3 separate regions of the Homo sapiens genome follow, and all the other regions are reported to be linked to region 1. The links are microRNA targets in miRTarBase. Many come from high-throughput screens and were not tested one by one. Region 1 holds a microRNA gene; each other region holds the end of a gene's coding sequence.
Evidence for each region. Region 1 holds the annotated microRNA hsa-miR-7156-5p (UUGUUCUCAAACUGGCUGUCAGA, at 1,026-1,048, opposite strand). A microRNA usually pairs through its seed, bases 2 to 8, with sites in the 3' UTR of a target mRNA and lowers its output. Matches are read on the target gene's strand: a 7mer-m8 pairs with bases 2 to 8, a 7mer-A1 pairs with bases 2 to 7 and ends in A, and an 8mer does both.

Region 2: miRTarBase lists WFDC6 as a target of hsa-miR-7156-5p. The part of its 3' UTR that is shown has no 7-base or 8-base seed match.
Region 3: miRTarBase lists MYO1F as a target of hsa-miR-7156-5p. The part of its 3' UTR that is shown has no 7-base or 8-base seed match.

What each region holds. Positions count from the first base shown.
Region 1 is chr1:77,058,191-77,061,190 of GRCh38, reverse strand. MIR7156 (microRNA 7156) reads right to left here and starts at 1,048; the gene lies at 989-1,048. The region is part of intron 4 of ST6GALNAC5 (ST6 N-acetylgalactosaminide alpha-2,6-sialyltransferase 5); the gene reads right to left.
Region 2 is chr20:45,531,561-45,534,911 of GRCh38, forward strand. It overlaps WFDC6 (WAP four-disulfide core domain 6), which reads right to left. Exons shown (of 3, transcript NM_080827.2): 3 at 2,636-2,945. The coding sequence ends at 2,907. LOC107987282 (a long non-coding RNA gene) reads left to right here. Exons shown (of 4, transcript XR_001754641.3): 2 at 1,714-1,766. Among named protein-coding and RNA genes, the nearest start is that of WFDC6, 6.2 kb to the right of the region's middle.
Region 3 is chr19:8,518,843-8,522,076 of GRCh38, reverse strand. MYO1F (myosin IF) reads left to right here. Exons shown (of 28, transcript NM_012335.4): 28 at 473-1,299. The coding sequence ends at 549. Among named protein-coding and RNA genes, the nearest start is that of ZNF414, 6.3 kb to the right of the region's middle.

The DNA of each region.
Region 1 (3,000 bases):
TGCCCGTCTTGGAATTATCTCTATGTTCTGTAGTGAAACACTGGATCCTTTCCTGACTAGTTATTGCAGATTTTATTAATTTACTTACCCTAGAAATTGGAATCCCATTAAAATTTTAATAGAAGGTGTTTTTAACACAAAAAATGCCTTCTAACAAAAATTCAGGTTGAAGCTGACCACTATGAAGAAAAAAATAAGAATTTGTGAGACATATCTTCCCATATTCATATGGCATAATTTGGGGGAACCATGCCAATTTCATGTTGCCATGGTATGCTTGGGGTTAAGCTTTTATTCCATCACAAATCACTTTAAATTTGATTCATCTAAGTTTTGGACATTTTATTGGCATCAATCTGACTAAAGAAACAGTTAGGTTTCTAAAAATATCATAAGATTGATTCGGCACCTAGGAGTAGGGGGCAATTGGAAACCAGCTAAAGATGCTACAGGATCAATTTCCTTATTCAGGAAGACCATCTCTTTGGAAAAAAAACTTATCTGACTCCATATTGATCCCCTAAAAAGAGAATTAAATTTACATATTTGGTTACTGTGATTTCAGAGGTGTCAAGATAAGTTATTCATGTAAGCGAGTTGTTTCCACATGTTAAAACTCTGTCCAAGCAGCAGAAAAGTGCTTTCTGGGACTCAGAAGGCAGCGCTGGAAACTGCAGGAACATCTACCCCAGCTGTGAGCCTGCCATCAGCTGGAATTCACTAAATTCACTATGCCATTTAGAAAGACACTCCTAGCTGAAGGTCATACTTCCTTGGGTCTTTTCTCAAACCTGACTTTCTAAAGACTGCCCTAGTTTTTTTCTTCCTTCACCTGACCTCAGTGAAAACTACAATAAACCTCAGCGGAATTTCCACATGAGGAAGCAGTTGTAAAAGGAATTCTGGTACTCAAGTTCCCATTGTGGGCCCCGTGAGCTGAAGGAAAGGATATGCGGGCTGGGGAGGCAGGAATGGAGATAACCACAGAACCAGTTCCCCAAGTGGCTGCAGCCTGCCATGCACACTCTGACAGCCAGTTTGAGAACAAGCCCTGCAGAATGATTTGAGGAAGAATTTTTTTTTCTTTTTAGAGGAAGCAGGTGGGGAGAGTGAGGGAACTAACATTTAGTGCGGTTGGGGAGCTTTAAGGAAATACCTATGCTCCAACCCCATAGACTCTGCTTCGGATGACTTGGAGAGGAACTCAGGCACAGGTATTTTAGAAAGTGTCTTAGGTTTGAACCAAAATAAACAATGTCAGTATTGGATTATAAAACCAATAAAATAAAATAAATATCCATGAGTCCATGATAATTTCAATAAATAACTGAATAAATAAACAAATAAATGGAGGAGAAGAAACAGCATTTCAAGACAGAAAAATTCCAATAAACAATGTAGAAAAAATGAGGGACTAGGAAACCATCCTCAGAACGTTGCAGTAATTGTCGCAGGCAAGATGCACCAAATGAACAGAACATTAATGGGGAAAAAGATGAGGAGAAATAGGCTACCTGCATAACCTGAAAGTATCTCTCCCAAGTTATTTATTAATGACAAAGGGAAAAATACTATCTTTACAATAGGTAAACCCAGCAGACATTACCTTAACCAAGTGATGAAGGTTAACATTGCCAGTAATAAGACGTATGGACATCACATACTTCCTGTTATGAGATTCTGGGAAGGGCCTATGGCTTCTGTGGTATCCTTCTCAGTAATGCATAACCTCAATCTAAGCACAGGAAAACATTAGATAAACCCCAAGTGAAGGACATTCTATGAAATACGTGACTAGTCCTCATCAAAAGTGTCATGAAATGCAGGGAAAGCCTGAGGAACGGCCATGGATTTAGAGACTGAGGACACCTGATAAATAAATGCAAAGGGAACCTGGATTCGTTCTTGGAGGACATAAAGGACATTAGTAGAGAAACTGGTAAAATCTCAATAATGCCTGTAGTTTAGCTGAGCATTATACTCATGTTAATTTCTTACTTTTGATAATTGGACCATAGGAATGCAAATCCGCATTAGGGGAAGCTGGATAAAAGTTATATGAACTCTCAGTATTATTTTTGCAACCTTTCTGTAACTCTAAAATTATTTGAAACAAAAATAAACATATTTTTAAATAATACATATCATAACAACAAAGCTTTTTAGAAGATTCAAATGGTGGAAAGCTCCTTGAGATTCTAATATGCAGCTAAGTTTGAGACAACTGATTTTGTAAGTACCTGCTCAGCTTCTGCGCTTAACTGATGTGATCTCCTTTACATCCTCATCAGCCCTCTGAGGCAAGTATTGCAGCTCCCATTTGATAGGGAGCATCTGATACCCAGGGAGACAGTCCACTGCCTGGCTTTCAGCACACAACCTGACTTATTGTCCATCCAAGCTGCTGGACTTGACTATTTCAGCTCAGAACACAGTGCTCAGCACTCCACATACACTCACTTATTTAGTCCTCACAACACCCCTATAAGACAGTGTCAGTCCATTTTGTGTTGCTAGAAAAGAATACCCAAGTCTGGGTAATTTATAAAGAAAAAAGCCTTATTTGGCCCATGATTCTGATGTCTCAAAAAATTCAAGGTTGGGCATCTGGGGAGAGCCCCAGGCTGCTTCCACTCCTAGCAGAAAGTGAAGGGGAGCTGGCATGTGCATAAATCACAAGGCGAGAGAGGAAGAAGAGAAAGGGGGAGGTGCCAGGCTCTTTTTAACAACTAGCTCTGTTGGGGGCAAATAGAGTGAGAACTCACTCATGCCCCGCCCCAGGGAGGGCACTAATCTATTCATGAGGGATCTGCCCCCATGACCCAAACACCTGCCACTAGGCCCCACGTCCAACACTGAGGATCAAATTTCAACATGAGATTTGGTGGGAACAAACAAAACATATCCAAACTATAGCAGAGAGCTACTATTAGCACCCCTACTCTGCAGACGAGGAAACTCATGCACAGAAAAACTGAAGTTTCGCAGCCAAGGTTTGGA
Region 2 (3,351 bases), not on the chromosome of region 1:
CTTTAAAGCAACCATTTTATATTGTGGGTCAGCCATCTGGGAAGCAATCTGCTTGGTGGTTCTTTTATAGGGTCTTTCCCATGGTTGCAGTCAGATGTCTGCTGGGGCTGCAGCCATCTGAAGGCTCTATTGGGTTGGGCATCTCATTTGCATGGCTGAAATTGATGCTGGCTATCAGTCAGAGCTTATCTGGGCCTGCTGATCACAGCACCCACATGGGTCTCTCTAGCATGGGCCTCTCTCAGAGTAGTTGGACATCTTACATGGCAGTTTCCCACTGCCCCCAAACAAGCTACATAAGAGGATCAAGTGGGACTTGCACTTATTCTAGCTTAGCCTTGGAGGTCACATAGCATCATTTTTGCTTTATTCTCTTGGTCAAAGCAGTCACAGAGTTTTCTCAGATTCAAAAGGAGGGGACATAGATCCCACTTCTAGGTGGAAGGTGAGTGAAAGAATTTTAGGACCTTGCTTTAAAACAGTCACACCATCCAGTGTCTTTTCCTCCTTCACCCCTTTCTTCTCCCTTCCTCTTTAACTCTTCTCTGCTTTCCTCCATCTCCCCCTTTCATGCCTGTCCAGCTATTTTCAATTTTGGAGTTTCTGCACCATACTATGGAACTGTCTTCTTTACTACAACTCCAGTAAACAAGTCCATGAGCCCTTTCAGAGACGGACTTACCATGAGGTCGATGGAGCCAAGCCTCAGGGTCCTCGCTCGAGCGAGCCCCTTTTAAGATTCTGGGAGTGCTTCTAGCTATATGTTTACATGGTCAGATGACTTGTAATATCTGCAAAAGTAAGATATTCTAACCATAATCGCCAATCCACCTTCCCTTTCCACTCTGACCTTTCCCTCTGTCACACTTCTCCTAGGTCAGGTGGTGTTTGGGCGACTGCCAGCATTTTAGGCATGCAAATTAAAAGGAAGTTGAGTTGGGGATATATTTATTTTGGAGTTAGTAGAATATATTTAGGTCGTTAGCTGTCATTTGTATGTGTAGGAAGTTGCTGCTAGCTGTCCTGGTGGAGAAGCAGCTGCAAATAATACTCCTGTTTTCTACTGGGCCTATTCCCTTGATGTTATGACACTAAGTTATGGGACTAGAGGTTGCACTGTAAAATGAATGTTCTTAGCCCAAGAAGGTTGCGGGTGGTAGAGGAGAAACAAGTTTTGAAATGTGTGGAGCCAGGAAAACAAGCCTGTGTAGCATTCTTTCAAATATCAGATACATCAATTTTTTTTTTGAGATGGAGTCTCACTCCACCGCCCAGGCTAGAGTGCAATGGCACGATCTTGGCTCACTGCAACCTCCACCTCCCGGGTTCAAGCAATTCTCCTGCCTCAGCCTCCTGAGTAGCTGGGGCTACAAGTGTGCACCACCACACCTGGCTAATTTCTTGTATTTTTAGTAGAGATGGGGTTTCACCACGTTGGCCAGTCTGGTCTTGAACTCTTGACATCAGGTGATCTGCCCCCTTCGGCCTCCCAAAGTGCTGGGATTACAGGCATGAACCACTGAGTCTGGTCAGATACATCACATTTTAATTAGAAAAAAAAAATCAGCTCTTATGGAAGCCTGTTCAGAAGTTCTTTTGTAGTAAGCATATACTTGATAATTCAATATGTACAATTTTAAATGTACCATGCATTTTTTCTTTTTTTAATAGAGTTGTACAAAAGATAATTTATTAAAATTCCTGTGTTTCTAGGACACAAACCTGTAACAGAACTGCAGACATCAAGCATGGCTTCAAGCATTCAGGTACATGTTTTATCCAATTCACCTATAATAAAAATTAAAATATCATATTTTGATCCCCACATTAAATAAAAAGTTATCTTTCCATTCTCTCCACAGAAATAGTGCTTTACAGAATTGAGGTCATAAATGTAAACAATGAATTATTAATTTATATGGGTTTTGTGCAATTTTTACTGTTTGTCAGCCTTTAAAAATTTGCAGCTGGTTGCAATTTCCCTCCTCATTTGAAATAATATTCTCTTTTGTACTCATTTGTGCTTGGTTTCTTTCTTTTTTCTTTTCTTTCTTTCTTTCTTTTTTTTTTTTTTTTTTTTTTGAGTTTTGTTCTTATTGCCCAGGCTGGAGTGCAATGGTGCAATCTCAGCTCACTGCAACTTTTGCCTCCTGGGTTCAAACAATTCTCCTGCCTCAGCCTCCCGAGTAGTTGGGATTACAGGCATGCACCACCACGCCTGGCTAATTTTGTATTTTTAGTAGAGATGGTGTTTCTCCACGTTGGTCAGGCTGGTCTTGAACTCCTGACCTCAGGTGATCCGCCCTCCTTGGCCTCCCAAAGTGCTGGGATTACAGGCGTGAGCCACCGTGCCCAGCCTGTGCTTGGTTTCTAAAGGAGCTCCTCATTTATCAGGTTTAGACCATACAAAATCTGGATCTGCACTGGCTCCATTCTTCAGCATCTTAACGACAACTTTACCAAAGTAACAATGTCACTAGCATTCTCAATTTGCAGGATTTTCATACTCTCTCCCTTTTTTGGTGTCACCAGAAAATGCAATGGCTTTTTGTTCTCTGAAAATTGCATATAGAGAGATGTGAGTGTATGTCAATATCAGCATATTGCAGATGTGAATTATTCAGCCTCGGAGAGATCGGACCCCACAGAGCACTTTATTAAGGCAACTGAAGCCTTCATACAAATAAATGGGGGGTCTGAAAGTTGAAGACATAGAGTTTCATACTGAGAAGTGGTCAAGGGGAAGAGCATTGTGTTTGAAGAGATGCTACGCTGGAAGAAAGTGTGTAAGCAATTCCTGGGGTTCAGTTTCTGGAACAGCCAAGGTTTGGCCCGTGGAAGCCAATTTGGAGCATCAATCAGGCACACGTGGAGAGAGGCCTGGATTATGAGCCAAATCCTGGAGGTTATTCAAGCTCCTCCTTATGGTATAAAGTAAGGCTGACCTGTGAAGCAGAAGAATAAAGGGTGAGATGCTTGGACCCTGACCACATTAGGAACCAAATCTTGCACCTAATGGGAAAAAGGAGGTGGGATCATTTTTACATCTTTGGGCAGGAATGGAATGAAGGTGAGTTTGGGGGCTCCTAGAATGATCATGAGTTCTGACTTGTCCAGTAGAGTCCCAGTTTATGCCTGTTGTCTCAGTGTAATAATTAATGGCACCTCACCTTGAGACACTTTCAAAAGTGATTTGGTTTGGCCAATAAAGTATGTGGTTGCCCTGGTTAGAAATAACCTTTCAAAGGAAGAGAAGTAGCAACAAGGTTTAGTGAGAAGTAAAGGACTATAATGATTGGCTGATGAATGGTGCCCAGGGCTGGGCTGGGTTTACCGGGCTTCCGTCTGACC
Region 3 (3,234 bases), not on the chromosome of region 1:
CACTCCAGCCTGGGCGATAGAGCGAGACTCCGTCTCAAAAAAAAAAAAAAAAAGAACCCTGACTGACATTGCCAGGCAGACCCCACCACTGCACACCCTCCCCACGGGAGAACAGAGATAACAGATGGGCGAGGTGGCTCATACCTGTAATCCCAGCACTTTCAGTGGCTGAGGCAGGAGGATCACTTGAGGTCAGGAGTTTGAGACAAGCCTGGGCAACCTAGCAAGACCCCATCTCTACAAAAGATTTACAAAAAAAAAACTTTTAAAGAGTAGAAATGGCCGGATGCAGTGGCTCACACCTGTAATTCCAGCACTTTGGGAGGCTGAGGCAGGAGGATGGCTTAAGCCTAGGAGTTTAAGACCAGCCTGGACAACATAGGGAGTCCCCATGAACAAGATGGACAGACCAGGCATGAGAGCTTTCTCCAGGGCCAGCTAGGGGCACCTCAAGCTTTCCTCTCTCCCACAGATCCCTCGGGCTGGTGGAAGGGCCGGCTTCACGGCCAGGAGGGCCTTTTCCCAGGAAACTACGTGGAGAAGATCTGAGCTGGGCCCTGGGATACTGCCTTCTCTTTCGCCCGCCTATCTGCCTGCCGGCCTGGTGGGGAGCCAGGCCCTGCCAATGAGAGCCTCGTTTACCTGGGCTGCAATAGCCTAAAAGTCCAGTCCTTTGGCCTCCAGTCCTGCCCAGGCCCTGGGTCACCAGGTCACTGCTGCAGCCCCCGCCCCTGGGCCCTGGTCTTCCTCCAACATCACACCTGCTGCCCATTCTCCATTTCTGTGTGTGTCAAAGGGGACTAACAGCAGAATCTACCTCCCAACTGCCATGTGATTAAGAAATGGGTCTTGAGTCCTGTGCTGTTGGCAAAGTGCCAGGCACAGTTGGGGAGGGGGGGGTCCTTAACAAGCGTGACTTTGCTCATTCTGTCATCACTAAGGCAATAAACCTTTGCCAGGTGAAAGCACGAGTTAACTTACTAAGTGCCCAACAAGGACGATGTTTTCACAGCCCTGTGAGGTAGGAGCTGTGAAGGACCCCATCTTACAGGTGGAACAATGGAGGTTCAGAGAGGTTCACTGACCCAAGACTGCACAGAGCCATGCCTTGCATTCATATGTGACCATAAAGCTTGAATTTGTCCCAGTTTGGGCTGGGCGCAGTGGCTCACGCCTGTAATCCCAGCACTTTGGGAGGCTGAGGCGGGCAGATCACGTGAGACCAGGAGTTCAAGACCAGCCTGGATAACACAGCAAAACCCTGTTTCTACTAAAAATTTAAAAAAGAAAAAAAAAAAAGCCGGGTGTGGTGGTGCCTGCCTGTAATCCCAGCTACTGGGAAGGCTGAAGCAGGAGAATCACTTGAACCCGGGAGGCAGAGGCTGCCGTGAGCCGAGATCATGCCACTGCACTCCAGCCTGGGCAACAGAGCAAGACCCTGTCTCAGAAAAAAAGAAAGGAAGGAAGGGAGGGAGGGAGGGAGGAGGTGGGCGCGGTGCCTCACACCTGTAATCCTAGCACTTTGGGAGGCCGAGGCGGGCAGATCACAAGGTCAGGAGATCGAGACCATCCTGGCTAACATGGGGAAACCTTGTCTCTACTAAAAATACAAAAAAGTAGCCGGGCGTGGTGGCGGGCGCCTGTAGTCCCAGCTGCTCGGGAGGCTGAGGCAGGAAAATGGCATGAACCTGGGAGAAGGAGCTTGCAGTGAGCCGAGATTGCGCCACTGCCCTCCAGCCTGGGCAACAGAGCGAGACTCCATCTCAAAAAAAAAAAAAAGAAAGAAAAGAAAATAAAGAATTTGTCTCAGTTTCCCTTCCAAAATCTGCATCCCAAATGGTCCAGCAGGTCCTGTTAGTCTTGAAGCTACAGCCGCCAAACCCATCTGGGACCTATGGAGAGAGGCAGGTCCCACATGCCACATGCTCCCACCCTCAATGCACTCTGGGTCACTCCTGCCCCCTGCACCCCAATCCCATTTCTGTGCCCTCTTAGTCTTCACCTAACTGGGACTAAGACTGGAGTCCTGCTATGGTCTGAGCCTAAAGATCCTGAATTTTGGGCTGGGCGCAGTGGCTCATGCCTGTAATCCCAGCACTTTGGGAGGCCAAGGCGGGCGGATCATCTGAGGTCAGGAGTTCCAGACCAGCCTCACCAACATGGTGAAACCCTGTCTCTACTAAAAATACAAAAATTAGCTGGGCATGGTGGCACGTGCCTGTAGTCCCTGATACTTGAGAGGCTGAGGCAGGAGGTGGAGGCTGCAGTGAGCCAAGACTGCACCATGGAATTCCAGTCTGAGCAATAGAGTGAGACTCTGTCTCAAAAAAAAAAAAAAATTCCTGAATTTTGGGAGTGGTGGTGCATGCCTGTAGTCCCAGCACTTTGTGAGGCCGAGGCTGGAGGATCACTTGATCCCGGGAGTTCAAGGCTGAAGTGAGCTATGATCGCGTCACTGCACTCCAGCCTGGGCAACTCAGCAAGACCCTGTCTCTAATACTAAAATAAACCAAATCCTGGCCAAGCATGGTGCCTCACAGCTGTAATCCCAGCACTTTGGGAGGCCAAGGCAGGAGGATCACTTAAGGTTTGACCACCCTAGGCAACCTACTAATACCCTGTCTCTACAAAAAAATTTTAAAATTGGCCGGGCACGGTGGGTCACACTTGTAATCCCAGCACTTTGGGAGGCCAAGGCGGGCAGATCATAAGGTCAGGAGATCGAGACCATCCTGGCTAACACAGTGAAACCCCATCTCTGCTAAAAATACAAAAAATTAGCCGGGCGTGATGGTGCGCGCCCGTGGTCCCAGCTACTCGGGAGGCTGAGGCAGCAGAATTGCTTGAACCTGGGAGGCGGAGGTTGCAGTGAGCCGAGATGGCGCCACTGCACCCCAGCCTGGGTGACAGAGTGAGACTCCATCTCAAAAAAAAAAAAAGCTAGTGTCATGCCTGTATTCCCAGATACTCAGGAGGCTGAGATGGGAGGATCACTTGAGCCCAGCAGGTCGAGGCTGCAGTGAGCTGATTACAACATTGTACTCCAGCCTGGGCAACAGAGCTAACCCTGTCTCTCTCTAAAAATAATAATAATAATAATAATAATAATAATTAATTGTAGCTTTCTAATATGGACACCCGCTCTGTGCTCAGCCCCTCAAAGAGAAGCCAGTCCAGTAGAGATGGGGCTGACTGGTGAGGTGAGGACTGGCCCACAGAAGCGAGGGGAATTCA